Regions from separate parts of the Homo sapiens genome. Here region 2 is linked to region 1. The links come from fine-mapping of genetic effects on gene expression. A gene starts in region 1. The other region holds a variant in brackets. All regions are shown on one strand. Distances are between the middles of the regions. Region 1 holds the start of BNIP1 (BCL2 interacting protein 1). Region 2 overlaps SH3PXD2B (SH3 and PX domains 2B).

Region 1 (2,905 bases):
CCTAGGCTTTGCCACTTTCAAGATAGGTAATCTTGCAACAGGGTTGATTGTTTTTTGTTTTAATTTACTCTAAGCCCTACTCCTGATCTGTGATAATAGTGTAGTACAATTTCAAGGGTGGTTGTGAGGATTAAGAGAGATGAACATGGTCGGGCACAGTGGCTCACGCCTGTAATCCCAGCACTTTGGGAGGCCGAGGCGGGTGGATCACGAGGTCAGTTCGAGACCAACCTGACCAATATGGTGAACCCCGTGTCTATGAAAAATACAAAAATTAGCTGGGCATGGTGGCACGCACCTGTAATCCCAGCTACTCAGGAGGCTGAGGCAGGAGAATTGCTTGAACCTGGGAGGTAGAGTTTGCAGTGAGCCAAGATTGTGCCATTGCACTCCAGCCTGGGCAACAGAGCGAGACTCCGCCACAAAAAAAAAAAAAAAAAAAGAGAGAGAGATGAACATTCAAGTCCTAAGCCTTTAGGTCCTCACAATCTATGCTTGCTGAAGTGACCCGAACAAATGCAGATGGAGTGGGGTCGAGTGGGGGAAACGCTTTCTAGGGAGAGGGAACACCACATTCTAAGGCTACACATCCAGAAGGAGCTTGAGCAATCCAGGAAGGGCGCAGGGTGCGGTGGCTGATGGCCGGGGTGGCTGATGGCCTTGAGGACCAGCTAAGAAACTTGGATTATTTACTAACAAAAATAAAAGAGCCACCATTTGTTGAGGGTTTGCTCTGACATTTCCATCAAAACTACCTTAGCAAGGTAGATTTAATAAATCCAGTTGTATACAAAAGGGAAACACGAGAAGCCATAGAAGGGCTGCATACAGGTAGGTGACTTGATCAATTTCGTGTTTTACAAAGATCCCTTAGATCATGTGTTGGAGTGATAGGAGGTACTCTACCGACCTGCCTTGAACTCCATACTTTAAAAAATATATGACGTTTATCATTTCCTCTTTTACTCCACAATTTATACTCACTGTAGAAAATATTAAAAATATAAGAAAGTTTGAAGAAACAAAAAATTATTACTGGTACTTTCCAGAGACATCTCAATTGATACTTTTCTTCCAGTCTTTTTTTTTCTATGTAAAAAATATATAGTTATTAGAATGCCTGACAGAAGGAAGATGGAAAGAGACCACTGTGAAGCGTTCTTGATATTCCCTCTTCCCTTCCTCTCCATGTTATTAGGGCCATACCAAGAGGAGAGGCTGATTTCCCTACACGTGTCAGGGAAAGTCCCAACTCTGCGCAGTGACCCTCGCTTGCCATTTTCGCCGGTCTCTAGGGGGCGCTGCCCCGAGACTGGGTGGGGAGGGAAAGAAGGTGGTGCGAAAACGCGTTTGAACTTGGGTCCTGCCGCTGCCCGTAGCCGGCGTCCCCAACATGGCGGCTCCCCAAGACGTCCACGTCCGGATCTGTAACCAAGAGATTGTCAAATTTGACCTGGAGGTGAAGGCGCTTATTCAGGTACTGATCCCGGGACCCCTGCCGGGCTCCAGCAGCCCTAACCCAAGCTCTGCTGGTCTGTGAGCTTGGCAGTGTCACTCCCGAACTTTCCCCACTTGGTTTCCCAGACCACAGGCTCCGCCCCATGGTCGGCTACCCCCCCGGTCCCCATTTGGTTGTGTCCCGGTGACTGCTGGCCTTGATCCTTTTTCCGGGTGCCGCCGGATCTCCCATCCCCAGAGCACCCCACTGTTCTCCGCCCCTGACTCAGCTACTGCTTCGGGGCTCGGCTTTGCCCCTTCCACCTGCAGCCCTGGTCGTCGCCCCGCCCCTGACTACCTCACAACCTACCTGTCACCCTGCTTGGCCCCGCCCTCTGACGCTGCTTCAGCATCCTCTGGTAGCGTCCGGGAGGCAGCTAGCCCCGCCCCCTGCTGGCCAGCTCTCCTGGCATCCAAGGCCACCTGGCACGGGAGGCACCGGGTGAAACGAATGTAACCTGGACCGTAGTTGTGATTTTATGCTTGAGGAAATCGAGTACGGCGCCAAGGCCTAGGTTAGAAGGCATACCTGGGTCAGTGGCAAAACTGGGACCTGGACTGTGAAAGTCAACCTAGGAATAACACCTTAGAGTGTTACCCCGTTTGAACAGATAGGAAATGAAGTGTTTCGCCTTAAGCCATTTAAGGGTAGAGGTAAAATAAACGAGTGGACTTAGGCAAGAATTGGGAGTGTAGACACGGTTCCATGAGTTCAGCAAAAAGAAACCGAGTTTTAAACCTTGTTTTTGCTTGTTTGTTTTTGTTTTTTTGAGACGGAGTCTCGCTCTGTCGCCCAGGCTGGAGTGCAGTGGCGCGATCTCGACTCGCGGCAAGCTCCGCCTCCCGGGTTCCCGCCATTCTCCTGCCTCAGCCTCCTGAGTAGCTGGGACTACAGGCACCCGCCACCACGCCCGGCTAATTTTTGTGTTTTGCTTAGTAGAGACGGGGTTTCACCGTGTTAGCCAGGATGGTCTCGATCTCCTGACCTCGTGATCCGCCCGCCTCGGCCTCCCAAATTGCTGGGATTACAGGCGTGAGCCACCGCGCCCGGCCTAAACCTTGGTTTTTAAAAATAATCATTTTCAACAAAGTCACTAAACATTAGATGTAGACTCAGAGTTTGTAACAAGGTGTGGCAAAAAGTGCAGGAAAATAGGGCTCCCCAGATAAACCAGATGCAGAATAAACCAAATTAGATGCAGAATAAACAAATACGGTGCAAAGAAGTGTGATTAAATGAATAAGCCAGAGAAAAAGTGAAATTTGATGCAGATATTTAAAACTTCTTGAACTTCACTTCTCTGATGTATACATTACAAAACTTCTGGGCCAATTATAGAAAAATAAACAGGTTTCATACAAATGAAATTACATTTTCACATAATCTAAATTGCTTAGGCATTCTTCT
Region 2 (2,905 bases), 710 kb before region 1:
GATCCTGGGAAGAGCTTGGGAGTTAGTGACTGGCTGGGTTGCAGATGGCTTGCTCTGGGAATATGCTGTCTTGGTCACACAGGCCCAAGGTGGATAAGTATGGTCCTCGTGGGTGCTGGGGAAGGGAAAGCAACAAGGGCAAGGGAGAGATGGAGAGCGAGGAGAGGGCAGGGCGGTCGGATGGAGCTCCACGGGCTTGACTAATGGGAAACCCGACTCTGCCACGCTTCGTGGAGACCCTGGGTTCCCTTTGGTTCTGATCTGTTGACTGTCCCCAGCTTTGTGTCCAACATCTGGCCTATATAGGTCAGCACCTCCAACCTCTTTTTGGAACTGCAGCACCCAAAGTTTGTTTGATTTCCCAACACCCCAGGGCAGCATCACCACCAGAAGTGCTGAAGGGGGAGAGGAGGAAACCGAGGCACAGAGCCATGCTGCGCCTGAGGTCGAGAGGCTGGGAAGTGGGTGACATGAGATCCAATCCCAGCCCTGCCAGCCTCCAAAGCCTCTTCACTTTCTTCTCCCAGCATCCCAAGGCCTTGGGTCTCCTGGCCCCAGGCCAGAGCTTTCCGGTCCCCACGTCAGCGCCAGGAATCACCAAGCTCAGGCTCTGCAGCAAGTGACACACTGGAGGTGGCAGGCTGCCAATATTTTTTTCCCCCAATTTTTTCAATTAAGTGAATGCTTGGATTAGGGCCAAAATACAAGTGCTTGTGGTGTCTTGCGTCAGATGAGACACTTAGGGCTGTGTTCCTACTGCACTCTGTCCACAGGGCACGCAGCGAAGGCTCAGGTGGCTGGTTGAGCTGAGGGCTCCGCTTATCCCTGTGTGCAGAGGTGTGCCAAATGGGGAAATGGCGGCAGGAGTAGGGGGAGAGGAGTAGCCTCCAAAGTGGGAATCTGATCTCTCTCCCCCTGCCTCAAACTCTTCAGCTCATTCATTCATTCATTTGGCATATACACAGAGACCTACTGTGCACCAAGCTCTGCTCGAAGGGCCTCAATCGAGAAAGAAAACACACCACACAGGCACAACGTGGGGCTTAGGGGCCTGTGCAGTCTGCCCCTCCTCTGCTCCAGCCTGGCTGGCTTTCTCTTGCCTCCAGGACTCAATGCCTGCCACTGCCTCTGGCGGGAACATTTCCTCTCCCTGCCCTGCTCAGCTCCTCTTCATTTCTCCAGCATCAGCCTAGAAGTCACCTCTCCTTGGAAGCCTTCCTGGACACCCCAAGTCTCAGTCTAGCTCCCACTCTCTGAGTTCCCACAGGGCTAGGGCCACCCTCTCTCAGAACCTGTTCCTCTAGGGGTGCTGGTCTCTTTGCATTACTGCACCCCCACTGCCCTGGGGGCCCTTGGGGCAGGGCCGGGTTTGTCTATTCACCATGGTCCCCCCAGTGCCTGGCGACAATGAGCTCTCAGGAAATGCCCGGTAAAAGAGACAAAAAGCCGAAACAGGGCCACACAGTCAAAAACCAAGGTGA[C/G]CTCACTCAAGGCTCTCTGTGTCCAGAGAGTAACAATGCTCGTGAAATAGCTGAATGAACAGCTCTATTGCCAAGGGTACCAGAAACAGAGCTGGCTTTGTCACAGAGGGAATGCAGGCATGGGACCCAACCCAAAAAGGGAAGTCCACGTTCCACCCCAGAGTTTCTCTGAAGAGGTAATGGCAAAAAACAGAATACCCAGGAGTGATTTAAACTCCAGGGGGAATGCCTCATCCCACTGTATGTCAGAGACAGTAAAGCTGAGGGAATTCTTTGAGGTGTTGGAACTGTTCTGTAGTGGAGGTTACAGGAACCTGCACATCATAACATGCTACACCAAAAAACAAAATTTTACTGCGTTACACCACAAAAGGGAATTTTACAGCATCCACGTAAAGTAAAAAATTAAAAATAACAATCATGCTTTAATGTCATTAAAAAAAAAAAAAAGATGGCAGGGTGTGGTGGTTCATGCCTGTAATCCCAGCACTTTGGGAGGCCAAGGCGGGCAGATCACCTGAGGTCGGGAGTTCGAGACCAGCCTGACCAATGTGGTGAAACCCCGTCTCTACTAAAAATACAAAAATTAGCCGGCCTGTGGTGGTGCGCACCTGTAGTCCCAGCTACTCAGGAGGCTAAGGTGGGAGAATCACTTGAACCCTGGAGGTGGAGGCTGCAGTGAGGCAAGATCACGCCACTGCACTCCAGCCTGGGCCACAGAAACAGAAAAAACAGAAAAAAAAAAAAGAAAAAAAAAAAACAAAAACAAAAACAAAACAAAAAAAAAACCCCAAAAAAAAACCACAGGCATCGGCTTTAGAATACCTGACTATGAATCCTGCCTCTATAGCCTGATGCTGCTGTGACTTTGCAAATCACCTCACAGCTCTGAGTTTCCATTTCTTCACACCTGGAAAATGGAGAGAACAGTACCTACTTTATAGGGTTGGCTGAGGGCTAAAGGCGCTAATGCATGTCAGGTGCTTGGCACACCATCTGGTCACAGACAGCTTCCAGGGCCATCACTAATAACCCATTATGGAGATTAGACACTGGAGGCCCCAACCGAGTAGCCATCTTCCTTGGGCCAACTCAAATCTTGCAAAGTGAGATATGTTAAGAGGAAAAGTCGGGAATGTCAAGCTGTAAAAACCAGGTATGTGTGTGCGTGCGTGCGCGCACGCGCGCGCACACACACACACACACACACACACACACACACACACACAGCTGCCCACCCTCTGGGCTCCCCTAACTCATGGAATCTTATCCAGCGGCATGGGCAGCAGGAACTATTTCCAGGGTTGGCCAGGCCAGGCATCTCCACTCTTGCCGACGACTGAGACACTGGGCTGGTGGAAACACTCGCTGCTCCAGGCGTGCAGCTCCAGCCCAGGCCTCTGGCTGCCAGCTCACGCACTGCT

Evidence for each region. PIP is the estimated chance that this variant, and not a neighbour inherited with it, causes the effect.
Region 2: its variant is fine-mapped to the expression of BNIP1 in aorta (GTEx, PIP 0.98).

Annotation. Positions count from the first base shown.
Region 1 is chr5:173,143,153-173,146,057 of GRCh38, forward strand. BNIP1 (BCL2 interacting protein 1) reads left to right here and starts at 1,379. Exons shown (of 6, transcript NM_001205.3): 1 at 1,379-1,477. The coding sequence starts at 1,394. RefSeq lists enhancers at 1,572-2,100, 2,042-2,111.
Region 2 is chr5:172,437,023-172,439,927 of GRCh38, forward strand. The region is part of intron 1 of SH3PXD2B (SH3 and PX domains 2B); the gene reads right to left. Among named protein-coding and RNA genes, the nearest start is that of SH3PXD2B, 16 kb to the right of the region's middle. The variant C/G (reference allele first, on the strand shown) is at 1,482.